2 separate regions of the Homo sapiens genome follow, and region 1 is linked to region 2. The links come from fine-mapping of genetic effects on gene expression. A gene starts in region 2. The other region holds a variant in brackets. All regions are shown on one strand. Distances are between the middles of the regions.

What was found.
Region 1: its variant is fine-mapped to the expression of PCMTD1 in whole blood (INTERVAL, PIP above 0.99).

What each region holds. Positions count from the first base shown.
Region 1 is chr8:51,793,449-51,801,448 of GRCh38, reverse strand. The region is part of intron 1 of PXDNL (peroxidasin like); the gene reads left to right. Among named protein-coding and RNA genes, the nearest start is that of PXDNL, 12 kb to the left of the region's middle. The variant T/C (reference allele first, on the strand shown) is at 4,459.
Region 2 is chr8:51,894,401-51,906,485 of GRCh38, reverse strand. It overlaps PCMTD1 (protein-L-isoaspartate (D-aspartate) O-methyltransferase domain containing 1), which reads left to right and starts at 7,450. Exons shown (of 6, transcript NM_052937.4): 1 at 7,450-7,556. PCMTD1-DT (PCMTD1 divergent transcript) reads right to left here and starts at 7,171. Exons shown (of 4, transcript NR_189279.1): 1 at 6,640-7,171. RefSeq lists enhancers at 6,334-6,393, 6,694-6,753, 6,924-7,213 and a silencer at 7,254-7,943.

The sequences.
Region 1 (8,000 bases), 100 kb after region 2:
GAGTTGGTCACAAAGATCACAAGCTTTAAAGGGCAATAAAGATCACAAGGCAAAGGGCAAAATTAGAATTACTGATGAAGGTCTATGTTCAGCTGTGCACATACTGTCTTGATAAACATCTTAACAGAAAACAGGGTTCGAGAACAGAGAACTGGTCTGACCTCAAATTTACCAGGGCGGGATCTTTTCCCCACCCTAATAAGCCTGAGGGTACTGCAGGAGACCAGGGCGTATTTCAGTCCTTATCTCAACCACATAGGACAGACACTCCCAGAGCGGCTGTTTATAGACCTCCCCCCAGGAATGCAATTCTTTTCCTAGGGTCTTAATATTTAATATTCCTTGCTAGGAGAAGAATTTAGTGATATTTCTCCTACTTGCACGTCAATTTATAGGCTCTCTGCAAAAAGAAAAATATGGTTCTATTCTGCCCAACCCCGCAGGCAGTCAGACCTTTGGTTGTCTTCCCTTGTTCCCTAAAATCACTGCTATTCTGTTTGTTTCCAAGGTGCACTGATTTCATATTGTTCAAACACCCGTGTTTTACAATCAGATTTCATATTGTCAAACACATGTTCTATAATCAATTTGTACAATAGTGGTCCTGAGGTGATGTACATCCTCAGCTTACAAAGATAACAGGATTAAGAGAGTAAAGTAAGACAGGCATAAGAAATTATAAGAGTATTATTTTGGGGAACTGATAAATGTCCATGAAATCTTCACAATTTATGTTCAGAGATTGCAGTAAAGACAGGCATAAGAAATTATGAAAGTATTAATTTTGGGAACTGATATGTGTCCATATTAAAATGAAATCTTCACAATTTATGTTCCTCTGCCGTGGCTCCAGCTGGTCCCTCCGTTCAGGGTCCCTGACTTCCCACAACAGTTCTTCCTGCCAGGAATGCATCCTTGGCCATTTTCTCCACACTGAGTCTGCCTGTGCTTGTTCTGCAGAAGCAGCTCAGAGCTCACCTTGGGGAAGCCTTTCTTCTCCCTGTTACTCCCAGGCTGCGTGACACACCTTTCCTGTCTTATCTGAATCAGGGAATATACCACGTGGAATTAGCGTTATTAACTTGTCTTTCTGAGAGACTGAGTTCCTTCAGGGCAGAGAACAGAGAAGATAGACAATATAAAATATATTAACATAAAATATTTTACATACCAACATATTTTATGTTGGGATATTAACATAAAATATGTTGCATGCAGGAATGAGCCAATTGGCCCAGTGAAACTTGAGGGGTGCTGAAAATATTGCCCATTTGAAAGTTTGACATGGGGCAGGCCCTCCATTCTAAGAGTGCTGTGGACCACTCTGTGTTTAACAGGGAGTTGCCTGGACTGAAACGATTTTAGTTGTAAGCCTCACTTACTACCTCACCTGTGTTGATGACTACTTTTACAGAAAAGGCTTGTGGTATGTGCCTGTTCAAAGAGGAAAATAGATTCCAAAGACAAAAATTTCTAGGGAAAATCAGCTAAGGGAGAAAAGAGAATTAGAGGCTAAATATTCTGACAAGCAGATATGAGAAATATTTGAGTGCTGATGTGATGGTTAATCCTGTAATGCTGTGAGGGTTGGGCATGGGTAGGGAGAAACTTACAAAGATCTCCATCTCTCTAGTTGGCACCCTTGTTTTAAGCCAGATGTAGGTGCACAGTAAAATGGTTTGTTCTTCATACCTAGATCAGAATGCCTCCTTACCTGGAGCCGTTCCCTTCCTGGCTCACCTTGCCCTGTTATAGAGAGGCTGATTTTGCCATGGTCTATATTTTGGCCAACTCTAAAGACAAGTATAGTTGAAAAGCTGTTGCAGTGTTGAGAATTTATTTTTAAAATGTTCCAAGTTAGCTAAAAGCAGCCACCAAGTAGGGACTATAACTCTGTTTGCATGGGAATCCTAGACAGCTCTCATGGCACCAGCCCAAGACAACAATCAATTATTATATTTTTACACTTCCCAATGTTGGTTATAGTAATAATTATTTTATTTACTTGTACCTCACATTTTCTCAGGAAGATATCTTTTTTTAAAATTTAATTTAATTTTAAGTTCCAGGATACATGTGCAGGACTTGCAGGTTTGTTACATAAGTAAATGTGTGCTATAGTGACTCGCTGCACCTATCAACCCATCACCTAGGTATTAAACTCCACGTGCATTAGCTGTTTATCCTGATGCTCTCCCTCCCTGCCCTGCCCCCACAGGCTCCTGTGTGTGTTTTTCTCCTCCTTGTGTCCATGTGATCTCATTGTTCAGCTCCCACTTATAAGTGAGAAAAAGTGGTGTATGGTGTTCTGTTCCTGTATTAGTTTGCTAAGGATAATGGCTTCCAGCTCCATCCATGTCCCTGCAAAGGAAATTATCTTGTTCCTTTTTATGGCTGCATAGTATTCCATGGTGTATATGTACTACATTTTCTTTATCCAGTCTATCATTGATGGGGATTTGGGTTGATTCCATGTCTTAACTATTGTGAAGATATGTGTGCATGTATCTTTATAATAGAATGATTTATATTCCTTTGGGCATATACCCAGTAATGGGATTGCTGGGTCAAATGGTATTTCTGATTCTAGGTGATTTATATTCCTTTGGGTATATACCCAGTAATGGGATTGCTGGGTCAAATGGTATTTCTGGTTCTAGGTCTTTGAGGAATCACCACACTGTCTTCCACAATGGTTGAACTAATTTACATTCCCACCAACAGTGTAAAAAGGTTCCTGTTTCTCCACAGCCTTGCCAGCATCTGTTGTTTCTTGACTTTTTAATAATCACCACTCTGATTTGCATCAAATGGTATCTTATTGTGGTTTTGATTTGCATTTCTCTAATGATCAGTAATGTGCCTTTTTTCATATGTTTGTTGACTGCATAAATGTCTTCTTTTGAGAAGTGTCTGTTCATGTCCTTTGCCCAGGTTTTAATGGGGTTGTTTTGTTTCTTCCTTGTAAATTTGTTTAAGTTCCTTGCAGATTTTGGATATTAGGCTTTCTCAGATGAATAGATTGCAAAAATTTTTTCCCATTCTGTATGTTGTCTGTTCACTCTGATGATAGTTTCTTTTGCTTTGCAAAAGCTCTATAGTTTAATTAGATTCCGTTAGTCAATTCTTGCTTTTGTTGCAATTGCTTTTGATGTTTTCATCATGAAATCTTTGCCTGTGCCTATGTCCTGAATGGTATTGCCTAGGTTTCCTTCTAGGGTTTTTATGGTTCTGGGTTTTACATTTAAGTCTTTAATCCATCTTGAGTTAATTTTTGTATAAGGTATAATTTTTGTATAATGAGTCCAGTTTCAATTTTCTGCATATGGCTAGCCAGTTTACCCAGCACCTTTTAATAAATAGAGAATCCTTCCCCCATTGCTTGTTTTTGTCAGGTTTGTTGAAGATCAGCTGATTGTAGATGTGTGGTCTTATTTCTGAGATCTCTATTCTGTTCCATTGGTCTATGTGTCTGTTTTTGTATCAGTACCATGCTGTTTTGGTTACTGTAGCCTTGTTGTATTGTTTGACGTCAGGTAGCATGATGCCTCCAGGTTTGTTCTTTTTGCTTAGGATTGTCTTGGCTATACAGGCTCTTTTTTGGTTCCAAATGAATTTTAAAGTAGTTTTTTTTCTAACTCTGTGAAGAATGTCAGTGGTAGTTTAATGGGAATAGCATTGAATCTACAAATTACTTTGGGCAGTATGGCCATTTTCATGATATTAATTCTTCCTATCCATGAACATGGAATGTTTTTCCATTTGTTTGTGTCCTCTCTTATTTCCTAGAGCAGTGGCTTATAGTTCTTTTTGAAGAGGTCATTCACGTACCTTGTAAGTTGTATTCCTAGGTATTTTATTCTCTTTGTAGCAATTGTGAATGGGAGTTTATTCATGATTTGGCTCTCTGCTTGTCTGTTGTTGGTTTATAGGAATGCTTGTGATTTTTGCACATTGACTTTGTATCCTGAGACTTTGCCAAAGGGGCTTATCAGCTTAATAAGCTTTCAGGCTTAAACAATGGGGTTTTCTAGATATCGGATCATGTCATCTGCAAACAGAGACATTTTGACTTCCTCTTTTCCAGTTTGAATACCCTTTATTTCTTTTTCTTGCCTGATTTCCCTGGCCAGAAGGTCCAATACCATGTTGAATAGGAGTGGTGAGAGAGGACATCCTCGTCTTGTGCCAGTTTTCAAGGGGAATGCTTCTAGCTTTTGCCCATTCAGTGTGATATTTGCAGTGGGTTTGTCATAAATGGCTCTTATTATTTTGAGGTATGTTCTATCAATACCAAGTTTATTGAGAGTTTTTAACATGAATCAGTGTTGAATTTTATCAAAGGCCTTTTCTGTGTCTATTGAGATAATCATGTGGTTTTTATCTTTAGTTCTGCTTATGTGATGAATGACATTTACTAATTTGCATATGTTGACCAGCCTTGCATCCTGGGGATGA[T/C]GCCAACTTGATCATGGTGGATAAGCTTTTAAATGTGCTGCTGGATTTGGTTTGCCAGTATTTTATTGAGGATTTTTGCATTGATACTCATCAAGGATATTGGCCTGAAGTTCTCTTTTTTTGTTGCATCTGTGCCGGGTTTTGGTATCAGGATGATTCTGGCTTCATAAAATGAGTTAGGTAGAAGTCCTTCCTTTTCAATTGTTTGGAATAGTTTCAGAAGAAATGGTACCAGCTCCTCTTTGTACCTCTGGTAGAATTCAGCTGTAAATCCATCTGGTCCTGGGCTTTTTTTTGTTGATAAGCTATGTATTTCTGCCTCAATTTCAGAACTCGTTATTGGTCTATTCAGGGATTTGACTTCTTCCTGGTTTAGTCTTGAAAGGGTGTATGTGTCTAGGAATTTAACCATTTTTTCTAGATTTTCTAGTTTATTTGCATAGAGGTGTTTATAGTATTCTCTGATGGTTGTTTGTATTTCTGTGGGGTCAGTGGTGATAACCCCTTTGTCATTTTTTATTGTGTCTATTTGATTTTTCTCTCTTTTCTTCTTTATTAGTCTAGCTAGTAGTCTATTTTATTAATTTTTTTTTCAAAACACCAGCTCGTGTATTCATTGATTTTTTTGAAGGTTTTTTTTTTTTTGGTTGTTGTTGTTGTGTGTGTCTCTATCTCCTTTCATTTCCACTCTGATCTTGGTTATTCCTTTCATTTCCACTCTGATCTTGGTTATTTTTTGTTTTCTGCTAGCTTTGGAGTTTGTTTTCTCTTAGTTCTCTGGTTCTTTTAATTGTGATGTTAAGGTGTCAATTTGAGATCTTTCTAGTTGTGGGGGTTCATTCAGGCTGGTGGGAAAAATATTAAAGATAGTTATAGTAATAGCCACAAACCTTCTTGGAAGGCCGAGAAATTTGCATAGCTTTAGTAAGGATTATAGCTGAAGGCAACCTGATCCTTACCTTAAGTAAATAGCTTAAAGTGAGTACAAAGGAATGTGGGGAGTTTACCTAATGAGCTTATTTACTCATGTGGTCTTAAGACCAACCTTTGATCATTTGCGGGTGCACGATGTCTCTCTCCAGGGTCGGGGTGACCAGGTTAATTACCCACAGGTGTGTTTAGTCATGACCTTTGTCAATTAATCTTTACTGAATAAATGTAAGTCTCACTGGCAAGTCGGGGCCACGGTTGCAAATAGTGGCCCAGACACTCAGCTGAACTGGCAAAGCAGAGTATCTGTGTGTCAGTGTACTTTATTCATCCATCATTGGGTCAGGGTCTGCAGGACAGACCCCCGCATCTAGCTTTTTGGGCATTTAGTGCTATAAATTTGCCTCTTAACACTGCTTTAGCTGTGTCCCAGAGATTGTGGTACATTGTCTCTGTGTTCCCATTGGCTTTAAAGAACTTCTTGATTTCTGCCTTAATTTCGTTATTTACCCAGGAGTCATTCAGGAGCAGGTTGTTCAATTTACATGTAGTTGTGTGGTTTTGAATGAGTTTCTTTATCTTGAGTTCTAATTTGATTGCACTGTATTCTGAGATACTGTTTGCTATGATTTCAGTTATTTTGCATTTGCTGTGGAGCGTTTTACTTCCAATTATGTGATTGATTTTAGAGTAAGTGCCATGTGGCACCAAGAAGAATGTATATTGTGTTGTTTTCTGGATGGAGAGTTCTGTAGATATCTATCATGTCCACTTGATCCAGAGCTGAGTTCAAGTCCTGAATATCCTAGTTAATTTTCTGTCTTGATGATCTGTCTAATATTGACAGTGTGGTGTTAAAGTCTCCCACTATTATTTTTTGGGAGTCTAAGTCCCTTTGTAGGTCTCTAAGAGCTTTTTTTATGAATCTGGGTGCTCCTGTATTTTGTGCATATACATTTAGGATAGTTATCTCTTCTTGTTGAATTGATCCCTTTACCATTATGTAATGCCCTTCTTTGTCTTTTTGGATCTTGGTTAGTGTAAAGTCTGTTTTGTCAGAAACTAGGATGCTTTTTCCTACTTTCCATTTTCTTAGTAAATTTTCCTCCATCCCTTTATTTGAAGCCTATCTGTGTCTGCACGAGATGAGTCTCTTGAATACAGTACACTGATGGGTCTTGACTTAATTCAGCTTGCCATTCTGTGTCTTTTAATTGGGACAATTAGTCCATTTACATTTAAGATTAATATTATTATGTATGAATTTGATCCTGTCATCATGATGTTGGCTGGTTATTTTGGAGACTTGTTGATGTAGTTGCTTCACAGTGTCATTGGTCTTTGTGCTTCAGTGTGTTTTTGCAGTGGCTGGTAACAGTTTTTCTTTTCCATATTTAGTACTTCCTTCAGGAGCTCTTGCAAGGCAGGCCTGGTGGTGATGAATTCCCTCAGAATTTGCATGTCTGAAAAGGATTTTATTTCTCCTTTGCTTATGAAGCTTAGTTTGGCAGATATGAAATTCTGGGTTGGAAATTCTTTTAAGAATGTTTAATATTGGCCACTAATCTCTTCTGGCTTGTAGGGTTTCTGCTGAGAGGTCTGCAGTTAGTTTGATGGGCTTCCCTTCATAGGGGACCTGGCCTTTCTCTCCAGGTGCCTTTAACATTTTTTCCTTCATTTTGACCTTGGAGAATCTGATGACTGTGTGTCTTGGTGTTGATCTTCTCATGGAGGATCTTACTGGGGTTCTCTGGATTTCCTGAATTTGAATGTTGGCCTGTCTTGTTAGGTTTGGTAAGTTCTCCTGAATGATATCCTGAAGTATGTTTTCCAACTTGGTTCTATTCTCCCCATCTCTTTCAAGTACCCCAATCGGTCATAGGTTCCGTCTTTTCACATAATCCCATAGTTCTCAGAGGTCTTGTTCATTCCTTTTCTTTTCTCTCTAATCTTGTCTGCCTGTCTTGCTTCAGCAAGATAGTCTTCAAGCTCTGAAATTCTTTCTTCTGCTTGGTCTATTCGGTTAATGATACTTGTGGTTGCATTGTGAAATTCTCATGTTGTGTTTTTCAGCTCCATCAGGTCATTTATGCTCCTCTCTAAACTGGTTATTCTGGTCAACAGCTCCTGTAACTTTTTTTTCCATCTTTTGTTGTTGTTGTTGTTGTTGTTGACAGAGTCTTGCTCTGTTGCCCAGGGTAGTGCAGTGGCATGATCTTGGCTCATTGCAGCCTCTGCCTCCCAGATTCAAGTGATTCTCATGCCTTAGCCTCCTGAGTAGCTGGGATTACAGACATGTGTCAGTCACCACGCCCAACTAATTTTTGTATTTTTAGTACAGACGGTGTTTCACTATGTTCGCCAGGCTGGTCTTGAACTCCTGACCTCTAGTGATCTGACCACCTTGGCCTCCCAAAGTGCTGGGATTACAGGCGTGAGTCCTTGTGCCCAGTTCCTATAATGTTTTATCATGGTTCTTAGCTGCTCTACATTGGGTTAGAACATGTTCCTTTAGTTCAGCAAAGTTCATTATTACCCACCTTCTGAAGCCTACTTCTGTTAATTCATCCATCTCAGTCTCTGCTCAGCGCTGTGCCCTTGCTGGAGAGGTG
Region 2 (12,085 bases):
TCACATATAGTCAAATCATTGAGGAGGCTCTGTGGGTCATAAGCCATTGGTTGTGAGAGGCTTGTTGTCCTAGCTGGGATGGACCCTTCAGTTCTGGAAGTTCTGCAGATTCGATTCTACATGTGGGGCATGAGGAAATGAGGCAAAGGTGGAAACCCCAAGTGGAAAACTCCTGCCTATGTGTAGCATGCATCCATTTCCCCTGAGGTTTTGCCACCTGCTATGATGCTGTTTGGTAAACAGATTTTGGCTTGTTTTACTGCTCAATGAATCCATATTCCTCTTTTCCATTTATAGTGTCGGGAGGAAATTAGGGTCATTGCTGTACAAGAAAAGTCTGCTTTTTGCCCTGCCAAAAACTTCATTACATCACCAAGGCAAGGAATCACACAATTGGCTATCTGCTAAAATACATTAGGGGAAAAGAAAAAGGTGTAAAATAAAAATACAGTTGCCCCTCGGTATCCATAGGGGGTTGGTTCCAGGACTTCCCACCCTTGGATACCAACATCTGGATGCTCAAATCCCTGATATAAAATACGGTAGTATTTGCATATAACCTATGCACATCCTCCCATATATGATAAATAATGTCTAGATTACTAATAATATCTAATATAATGTAAATGTTATATGAAGTCTTCCTTTCCTGTTTACCTTGTCTGGTGCTTTTGTTTTCTTTTTCTTTTTTGGGGGGGGGATGGAGTGTCACTCTGTCGCCCAGGCTGGAGTGCAGTGGCGCAATCTTGGCTCACTGCAAGCTCCGCCTCCCAGGTTCACGCCATTCTCCTGCCTCAGTCTCCCGAGTAGCTGGGACTACAGGTGCCCGCCACCACGCCCAGCTAATTTTTTGTATTTTTAGTAGAGACGGGGTTTCACCGTGTTAGCCAGGATGGTCTCGATCTCCTGACCTCGTGATCCGCCTGCCTCGGCCTACCAAAGTGCTGGGATTACAGGTGTGAGCCACCGTGCCCAGTCGTCTGGTGCTTTTTTTCTTTGATATTCCTGAACTTAAACAGTAGCTAGGGGCAGGCACGGTGGCTGACACTAGTAATCCTAGCACTTTGGGAGGCTGAGGCAGGAGGATCACTTGAGGCCAGGAGTTTGAGACCAGCCTGGGCAACATTATGAGACTTCCATCTCTACTAAGAATTTAAAAATTAGCTCCATGATGTGGCACATGCATGTAGTTCCAGCTGCTTAGGAGGCAGAGGCAGGAGGATTGCTTAAACCCAGGAGTTCAAGACTGCAGTGAGCTATGATCACATCACTGCATTCCAGCCTGGGCAACAGAGTGAGACTCTGTCTCCAAAAAATACAACAACAAAAAACGGTAGCTAGGAACAAAAACCATAAGCTAATTCATGCACTGGCATTAATGGTCTATTAACATATATTTTGTGAAAATTAACCATTTCTTGGTTTATTAAAGTCTTGCCTAAGATATAAGTATATAAAAAATATGACTGAAGCTTTTGTCTCTGGTAGGAAATTCAGCATGTATTGTTTAGGGAATAATGATCAAACAAAAGTCTACACATTTAGTACAGATGCAACCATCCATTTTTGGGGGGAATATTTTCCATCTGTGGTTGGTTGACTCTATGGTGTGGAACCCATGGATATGGAAGGCCAACTATATAAACTAATATGTCAGAGATGTATCTCATTTTCCAACCTTTTAATTAGAAACCAAGGGAAGCTAAGAACACAGAAAGTCCTCCTGCCTAAAACAATCTAGCTATAGCTTACTCCTGAGGCCTCAAATTCCTTATAAGTAATAGAACATCATTATTTAATTCCTTTGTAAAAATTGTAGATTGAGTTTTTAAGAACTGTTTAAATAAAAATATTCCTGGAGGGAAATAAAGCTGATTTCATATATTAAGTATCTTGTCATTAACTTTTTTTTTTTTATCACATGGTCTTTCTAACATGGTTCTAGCTGAGTCCTGTGTCCAGCAGGACACATTGCAGATTAGGAGAAGAAAGGTGGGGTCAAAGGACAGCACTGATGGAGAAGGCATGGATGACACCATAGAGGGGGCACCCGCACAGCTGCAGGCAGCCTGAGGGCACTGCTTACTGAGGTTACGGAAAAGAAAGGAGGGAGGATAGCTGCAATACATGCTGCTCATGTTACACACTGGTTTATAGCTAGTCCTGGCAGCAGGGGCAGTGGAAACAGTGTGATCCAACCACCTGTGTTTTTTAGACTACATTTATCACTTAGCCATGACCTTCAAGTTGGGCAACACTGAACACTTTTCCAGGGACTTTGGTGTGGATCACGCTCTGTAAATATCTCCTTGAAGGAACACAGAATTGAAATAACATTTTGAGGTATTTTTGCTGAAAAAAGAGTTCATTATCGAGGTTAGCTTTTGTTTTAGGATTTTTCATTTCAAAGTCTCTGTTCTGCCCTAATAATGAATTTGTTGTCACAGCTCCTATTTTTACTATTATTTTTAGCAAACTATTCTATTTAGTGGAATTAAAAAAAAAAAGATCAGTTGGTTCTAGTCAACTCTTCATAATTGCTCTGTTCATCAACCTAGAGCCAAGAAGAATCCATACATATGAATTATCATTTCAGTGCCTGGACTTACTACTGTGGTTCAGTATCTGACCAAGAAAGACAGGTTTACTGACCAAAGCCTTTTTCATCTTCATTTCAGAATTCAAATGTCATACTTAAAAACACACATACATACATATAATGTGCACACACACACACACATAAACACAGTAACTTCATTTACACTATGAATCACTAAAGCAGACTCTGAAATGGTTTCACCTAACTACAGTAATAGTTATATACAGCATAATTTTTAGTTCTAATACAAGGTACTTGCGTCAGCTACATTTACATAAAAGTGAACACTTAAGTTTTGGCTCCTTGCTGGCTGTTGCATCCAATCTAATGACCACCAAAATCTGGCTGCAGTCTATCTTTCTAGGCTTAGCTCCCATTATCCTTTTTGCATTCTATGTTCTAGCTAAATCAGATTAATCTCTGCTCTTTGAAAACAAATGATCTATGTAAGCGTTATTCTTTTATATTCCATGTTCCTAAAATAGCTATTCTCTTTATCTCCATAATTCAAAAATTCTATTCAAATTTCAAAGCTTGATTCAAATTTGACTTCTGCCATGGAACACTACTATGGAGCAAGAGTATTTTATTTGTACCCTTACTATTATGTCAAGGGTCACTTTCCTCCTTCTATTATTTGAATGTAAGTTTATTAAGACAGAAGCTATATCATATATTATTGCAATATCCTCAGCATCTATCATAGTGTCAGAAAATGTTTATTGAACTTTAATAGATTCTTTAAAAAATATTAAATTTTACATATACATTAAAAAGATGTTTATCCACAGTTTTGATGCACTTAAGTTTACAAGCAGAAGTTTTCCTTTTTCTCCACTCCATGATTCTGTTTTTTAAGAAGCAGAATTTTTAATAAAGGAAAGATATTTATATAGATTAAGCACCATATAAGAGTAATTTTAACTTGTGAGTTAAAGTCACTTTTTGTTTACTGTAGACAATAAATTATAAATGCTTATTTTTCTAAAAGAAATTCATTTTTTGATAACTTATATTTCCTTTTATTGGAAGATTATCCTAGCATTAAAATCTATGTAATTGAGGGATTATATGTGCAATTTAAAATAAAATTATGCTTTCCCAAAGTCATTTAATCCTATTAATTGTCAAGTGAATATTTCAGAAATTACTGACCTTTTTAATACTGAAAATGAAATCTGCCTGTGCAGACTACATCCAATTAGAAACTAACTCCTGGGCTCAAGTAATCCTCCCATCTCAGCTTCTGGAATAGCTGGGACTACAGGCATGCATCACCACACTCAGGTAATTTTTAAATTTTTTGCAGAGATGAGGTCTCACTATGTTGCTCAGGCTGATCTTGAAATCTTGCAACTTCTGAGCTCAAATGATTCTCCCACCTCTGCTTCCTATAGGGCTGGGACTATAGTCGTGAGCCACTGTGCCTGGCCAATGACAATTCTCTTTAAGAGAGAAAATACTTCTGTTTTTGCTTTTTTTTTTTTTGCAGGGGGAGGGGGATGGTGAGGTAGGGGAGGTGATGAATTTAACTGTACTGAAAATGGTACAAGGAAATCAAACTGCAGAAAAAAACAGTTCCACATTTAGTTACATTTTAGTTTTGGGTTTTCCCCAGACATTGCAGGCCAAATTAGAGTTAAGATGAGGAAATCCTTTCAGTCCTCACAGACCAGACTTGGCTTTATAAAACATAATCAAGTCCCACTATACAACCTAGGTGTTAGGAAGCAACTAGAGTTTTCAAGGTAGATCTGGGCAACACGCAGACACCTCCATTTCTGAGGCTGAAGGAAACATGCACCAGTGCTAACTGCCACGCATATGAAAAATGTGAACTCCTAGCACGGTGACAGTAGCTGTATGCTGAATACCATTTAATTTAATAAGCATTTGTTTGTTGAATACCTTATGCATTCAAATAACAGAGCACTTCTGATACAACAATGCTTCAGCCTACACAGTATTCTGAAAGGAGTCCCAAATAGCTCAATTTTACTTTGGGTATTTTCTGCTTAATAATAAAAGTGAAGCAACCTCGTATGAAGAATTAAGTTATTACAGTAAGTGTTATTGCTGTTGCCAGGACCAAACTTACTGTAACAATGTATCAAGAACTCTAGGAATAAACTGTGTGTGGGTTATCTAAATTTATCAAAGTCTAAATAAATCTCTAAATGATTCTAGATGATAATTTAAAATTTAAATTACTCATTCAACAAATGCAGAGTATCAGTGTTGTAGCAGCCACTGTATCAGGCCCTGCAGAGAAATAGTGAGCATACTGGGTATGTGCCCAACTTTCATGATTACAAATTAGTAGGAAGTCACACACAAGAAGTGAATTATAGCCAGACGTGGTGGCTCATGCCTGTAATCCCAACACTTTGGGAGGCCGAGGCGGGTGGATCACTTGAGATCGGAGTTTGAGGCCAGCCTAGCCAACAGGGGAAACCCCATCTCTACTAAAAATACAAAAATTAGCAGGGGGTGGTGGTGCGCTCCTGTGATCCTAGCTACTTGGGAGGCTGAGGCAGAACTGCTTGAAGCCGGGAGGTGGAGGTTGCAGTGAGCAGAGGTTGCCACTGCACTCCAGCCTGGGCAAAAGAGCAAAAGACTCTGTCGCCCCCACCCACAAATGAATTATATGTGTAAGGTATGGAGGCATAATCAGAAATTACGTGAAGGTAGAGATGGGGTGTGCCTACCACAGGAAAATTACAGGTGATAGAGTGCTTTACTTGCTGTTCAACTACTCACCCACAAGACTAGCATTTGGTGTTGTTTATTAAGAAGGTATTTACTAGCAGTCTTATTTAAAAAATGACCTGTGTTTAACTTTCCAGCCGCAGAAGAGAAAAAAGGTCTAGAACCCTGAAAAATTCCCATAGCAGAAGGAAGAAAGTAAAGGAAAATATGCTTTTAAAAAATGGAGAGAAAACAGGGGAAACGGCTGTAAGAGTTGTTTAATGATTTTAGCTATTTTCCTTAGATTACCATTTGTACTTTTTTTGTTTGTTTATGGTAAGATAGTTTTCATGTGCCAAAATTTCTGCTTGGACTAACAGAAAATTCATCCTGTAAGATTGTTATATGATCCCACAACGGTTAGGAGTGCCCTGGGTCCAGGCAGAAATCCAAAGATGGAGCTAATAATGTGACCCGCAGCTCTACTCCAGAATGCAGATGAATAGAGATTTTGAACAGTTCGGAGCTCAATGTCCACTGAATATGCACTCATACTTTAAACCTAAATAAAGTGAAGCCTTTGAGTTAAATGGCAGAGCGCCTCAGCAGCAATTTTGCTCGTTTTCAAGTTCTTATTTCGTGATTTGAAGCTTTTGACCTTGCTAGCATGTTCTTTCTGAACGCTTTTGCAGATGGTTGGTTATGGTGGGGAGTAGTAACCCTAGCATAAAGACGTTCTAATTCTAACTTACCTTAGGTAACCTATAAGGGTAGCTTACGCTCACTCTCATACTTGAAAATCAAAACCGAACAGAATTCACACGATGGAAGCAAATCATGCTACAACCTACTATTAGAGACTGAAGGGAAACGCACAAAGATTAATGAACAACAAAGAACACTTCAAAAAGTACAGTATTTGGAAAAGACATGCCTTTATGTACACTAAAACTAATTTAAAAAATTAAATGCAGTTTGCTAGGAGTCTTACAAGTATTAACAGCATGTTCACTGCTTAGGATCCTTAGTAGCAATATTTTCCCGGCTCGCCTGCCCCTATGCCTCATTTCCTCTTCTTTTTTTTTTTGAGATGGAGTTTCGCTCTTGCCGCCCAGGCCAGGTGCCATCTCAGCACTGCAACCTCCGACTCCCGGGTTCAAGCGATTCTCCTACCTCAGCCTCCCGAGTTGCTGGGACTACAGGCGCACGGCACCACACCCGGCTAATTTTTGTATTTTTAGTAGAGACGGGGTTTCACCATGTAGGCCAGGCTGGTCTCTAAGTCCTGACCTCAGGTGATCCGCCTGTCTCGGCCTCCCAAAGTGCTGGGATGACAGGCGTGAGCCACTCACCCGGCCCTCTTCTCGACTTTCTATCCCTCCTCCTCAACACCCTTTCCTTCTGGAAATGGGCTTTGGGGTGGTTAACCAAGCCCAGGGAAACTTGCGTGGCCCAGCATCTTCCGTCCGCTGCAGGAGGAGCACACGCCCCCGGCCCGGGTCAGCAAGACGCGAGAAAGCGGCCACGCCGGGCGTCCGGGAGCTGAGGCTGGAGGGCGCCTGGCAGGCAGGGCGGGGCCCAGGCGGCGGGAGTGCTTATGACCGGCGCTGGGGGGAACTTCTGGACGTCAAGGGGCCACTATAAAGCGGCACAGTCTTGAGCCTTCGCTCTTCACCTAAGTCAGTGAGCGCCCTTCGCAAAGCCTCTGTGGAGGTAACCATTGGGGGTTCGCCTCCAAATCCAGGAATGCACCTCAAAAATGCTCCTACACCGTAAGACCGTGTCCTTCAATGCAAAGGGGACTGTGCGGCGAGGCACCGACAAGCCGTAGCCCTGAGACCACTGAAAGCCTGCACCCCAGCGCCGGTGCGAGAACGTGGAGATGGCGGTGGGGAGGAGAGGTGGAGGCCATGCTCTCGCGTGATCTCCCCTACCGCCATCGTCTTCTGGCCTGTCAAGGCCTCGCGTTGTTTGGGCTTGGGGGCGGAGCGAGCCCTGAGGGGGGCGGGGCCAGATGGGGGCGTCTCCCGGCCTTGTTGACTTTGGCGTCCGCGGGGAGCTGCCCCTGTGCCCGTGGTTCTCTGCGCATGCCCGGACCCCGGCGGCTCCGGAGTCCGGGAGGCTCTGGCTGCTCCAGTCGCGGGTCCGGGCCCCGCCTCTCCACTCGGCGGTGGCGTCCGTGTTGTTATTGTGGTGGTAGCGGCGTCTGGCTGCTGCGGACCCCGCCGAGTCCTAGCGCCTGGCCTGCGCGCCGCTGCCCGCGCCACAGGTAACGCCGCCGCCAGTGGGGGCTCGGGGTCGTGGGGTGTGCGAGTCCCGCGTGCTAGGGCCGGGCGGGCGACTGGGATGCGCTTGGAGGCCAGAGGGCCAGGGGGACGGCAGCCGAAGAGTCGGGGGCAGGGGGACTTAAGGGCGGGCAGGTCGGGGGCCAGGAAACTGAGGCGCTGCGGGGCAGGTTGGGGGAAGGACGGGCCGGGGGCGGAGGACTTGGGAGGTCGGGGAGTCGAAAGGGGCCCAGCGAAGCCTGGAGGTCGGGAGCCGGGGTCCCTGGGGCCGGGGAGGTCGGGGGCCCGAGGGAGGCCGGGGCGCCGCGTCCTCGGCCCGTCCTCGGCTCGTCCTCGGCTCTGACCTGGGCTTGGGGACCAGAGTCCCGAGGCTGGCGTCTTGAGATGCCCGCGGGCCCCTTAGGGCCGTTTTGGATCCGCCCAGTGACTTCTGTTTTGGTTTTGGAGGCAGAGAATCCAGTCTACGTAGACTCGGGGAAGTCTCGGGGGCTGGGAGGGGACTGAGAGGTTATAGCAGGCGCCAAGGCCTCTTTTTGTGTTTTTGAGCGTCTACTACCGTTCCGGGGAAGTGCAGTGCCCGCGTTTTGCTTGGGGAATTTCAGACACCGGCATGGGGAGGACCCACGGGCAGAACCCGAGGGAGTAATTTTGCAAATCCAAGATTTTTTGGAACTTCTATAATTTTGTTTTCGTGTGTCCTCTTTTTAGAATCGAGAAACCAGAGATATATTTTTAACATTACAAATCAGAAGAATTTGCTACGGAGGAAAAAAGTATGCTTTTAGCAGTGTTTTTCCCCTATTTATTTTTTTAATTACAAAAGTACTGCTTGCTCCTTGAGAAAAACATGAAGCAGCCAAACAATGAGGAAACCTGCCCTCTCTCGCGCCCTTCCCCCCATATTTCTCCTTCTTACTACCCAGGGTAGCCAGTCTCCAAGTGTGGTGGGTAGTTATTCAGGATTTTTTTTTTCTGTGCATTTAATGAGTGTGCTTTAGAAACAAGATTGGGATCATATATAGTACAGTATATCGTTTTATTAGCCAACAATGCATCATGGATATTCCTCCATTTTATTACACACCTCATTATTTTAAAAAACATTATTACTATGTATTAGAGAATCCAATCTACGTAGGCTTGGGGAAGCCTTTTCTTCATTGTTAAACATGGTCGCCAAGTTTTCAATAATCAGTAGCTTTGAAAAGGGCTACAAGCCAATATTTTGAAACAATGTGGCAAAACTTTCAGAATGTCTGCGGCCAGACGACATTACTTTCGTATTAAGCAGATTAATATGTTTACGTATTGCTTAATGGTAGTTTACATGAGGCTAGATGACTCCATAAAACATAAAGTTGCTGAATTAGTTTACTTTTTGGTTTTTTTTATTTCATTTTTTTCTAAGTAAATTTTAATTCCATATGGTCAGTTGAACACTTGTAATTTCTTTAACATGAAGTAGCTAATATGTGAAGGAAAGGTAAGGTAGGAAAGATAGAAAGCTAGTGGCCCTAGCCTGAGACAAGAAAAAAAAAGCAACAGGGATTAAATATTTTGGTAAGTAAGCTATAGGGAGTAAACTGGAAGTGGAGGGGTGATACTACACTGCCTACTATTAAGTAAGACAGAAAGCTAGGAAATTCCCATTGCATACTGTATTTCTGTGTGCAGAAGAGCTGGAGGCTTTGTTGATTTAATCACTAGCTTGTATTTATTAAAAATGTACTGTGTTCATCTTGGTGCTAGCTTCCAGGGAAAGAACAACTGAGGAAGATAATCACGAACAACGTCTGGTTCTAAACATGCATAGCCTGAAATTTTAAGCCAAATTGTGTAGTATTTTATGATTTGGAAACTGTGCTCGAAAGGAATAAAAAAATCCATGACATTTTAGTTATTTTTGGTAATAATATGCTCATATATTTCTCATAACAACATAAATGACATTCTTCTCATTCTATAGAGTAATAAATAGAGGCTTTGAGTAAAAGAACTGCTCAAGATCCCATTGCTTTTTTTTTTTTTTTGTAATAGTGCGTGTTTATATTCAGGAGTGCTTAATCCAAGAACCTGTGTTTTCTGCTCTTGTTTTACCTCCTATGAACGAAAAATTGTTGCCCTTACGGTTTTTTCTGCTTTCTTTGAAATGTTCCTTACAGAATAACTACATGAATGTAATCACATGCATTTAAAATAGTCTAGAGAATATAGTGTGAAACTATAATGGTATTTTTTTAGATGAGGTTTCTGGTGGCATATTACTAAAATTTTAAACTCCTTGATCTTATGCTGTTAACCAAGAAGATGGGGATTTGTGTTACTTTAGACACTGCTGGGTGCCATGGTAAATTGGGATGTTATTGTAAATTGTAGCTCTCACAGCTGCGTATTGCTTACAAACTCGGAAGGATAGTCTCATATCAGTAAACATTTTTATGAACGTAGTTGAACTTTTTTGTAAATTAGTGTGCTGGAAAGAATACCAAGAGGGCCCTAAAAAAGTCTAAAAGGATTAAAATTTACTTATGTAATTATTGGTATTTTAAAATATTTGGTAGTCACTTAAAATGCATAATGACAGACAATAGGGTGTCATAATATGGTTTATTAATCTTTTTTCATTTTCCACTAGATGTGGCAACTACATAGTTGGAAGAAATGTGGCGGCCGGGGGCAGTGGCTCACGCCTGTAATCCTAGCACTTTGGGAGGCTGAGGCAGGTGGATCGCCTGAGGTCAGGAGTTCGAGTCCAGCCTGGCCAACATGGCAAAACCCCGTCTCTACTAAAAATACAAAAATTAGCCGAGCTTGGTGGTGGGCATCTGTAATCCCAGCTACTCGGGAGGCTGAGGCAGGAGAGTCGCTTGAACCTGCGAGTCAGAGGTTGCAGTGAGCCAAGATCGCTCCACTTCACTCCAGCCTGGTCAAAAGAGTGAGACTCTGTCTCAAAAAAAAAAAAAAAAAAAAAAAAAGAAATGGGACAAATACTAACATTAATAAAGTATGGTCAGTTGTAATCTGTATTTGAGAAGAAACCAAAAATACAGGAAAAGCTTTGACATTTTACTGGCAATTGTTAAGGATGATAATTGGATTCATACCTAAATGGCGTATCTGCCATTGATTATCTCTCGGTCAACGTAACATTGGATGTTGGATGTGAGTGGGTTTTATAATTAGGTGACACAGAAATATTTCAGCCCCCTAAAGACGTTTTTAGAATATGGTAAGATTTTTTCAGCTGTTGAAGTGGGGAAGGATTGTGAATCAAACACTATGTGTATGTGTATTCTCAAAAATTAATGAGAGGTATTGCTGATGGGAAGACATAGCATATTTTCCAGTTTAACCTGAAAATCCTTTTTGGAACATTATGCACGGGTAGCCAGAAATAACTCAACTTTATGTCTTGATACAAGACATGCATCAGGTATGATTTCTAGAGCTTAAAATATTCTTGGAGTTTAAAAACTAATTTGCATAAAACACTCTTCTGTGTTTTCTACTGAGCACTCTTCAGTAACTTGCAGGCTCTTAAAAACCTTTAATGATAATCATGTTATCAATTGATGAAGTCAGTTCAGTTTATAATCTAAAGTTATAATGAGCATTGAAAGAGCTGTAGAATGTGAAATGCTGTGAAGGTCTGTCTTGGTGACTTTCACAAACTGGCATCTCCAACTCTCCCTTCTTGGGGCCTTTGTTTGTTTTTCTCTCTCACTTCCTGAAGTATAGATAGATGTTGCCTGTAGGTGTTACCTTAGGTTTAGTTCTTTTCCTTTTTAGAGTTTGTTCTCTTCTTTGGCAATCCCACACAGATCCGTGGTTTCAACTGCTCATTCCCCTCACCCTCTTTGCTCAGGCTTCCACTTGTGTATCATCAGCCTTATTTTCATTCCCAAGCTTCAGATTTGCCAATGTTGTTCTCCCTGATCAACTTAGTAGCTGTCATTTTGTAATCTTGAATCAGTAGATTCAGAATTAAACTTTTTTTGCAAGCCTGATTCTTCTTGCTTGTTTATATTAATGACCTTTGCATTTTCTTAGTCATCTAGACTCAAAATCAAAAGGTCATCCTTGGTTCTTCTCTCTCTCCTTTTCTTAGAATTTTTTTTTTTTTTGTCATCTTACTGCATTGTGGTTCCTGATTTCTTCTATCTTTCTTCAGTTCTTCCAGCAGCCATATACACAGCAAGAGACATTAATCTCTAGGTTTGTCATTCATTGTGAATACTGCTTATTAATTGTCCTAAATGTAGTCCTGATCATGTTCCCTGCCTGATGACAAGCAAACAAAACAAACCCACTTGGGTGTTTATGTCAGTCAGTGTGCTGAATCCTTTGTTCTCATGTGGTCATTATAATTTATATTATCCCCATTCTACAGGTGAAGAAATTGGAACTTCATGATCTTGAAGGAGTTGTTAGTAGGTAGAAGAGCTCTGGGATTTGAATCCCAACCATGTCTTCTTCCAAGTCTGTGTTCTTGACCACTGTGCCTCTGCTGAGT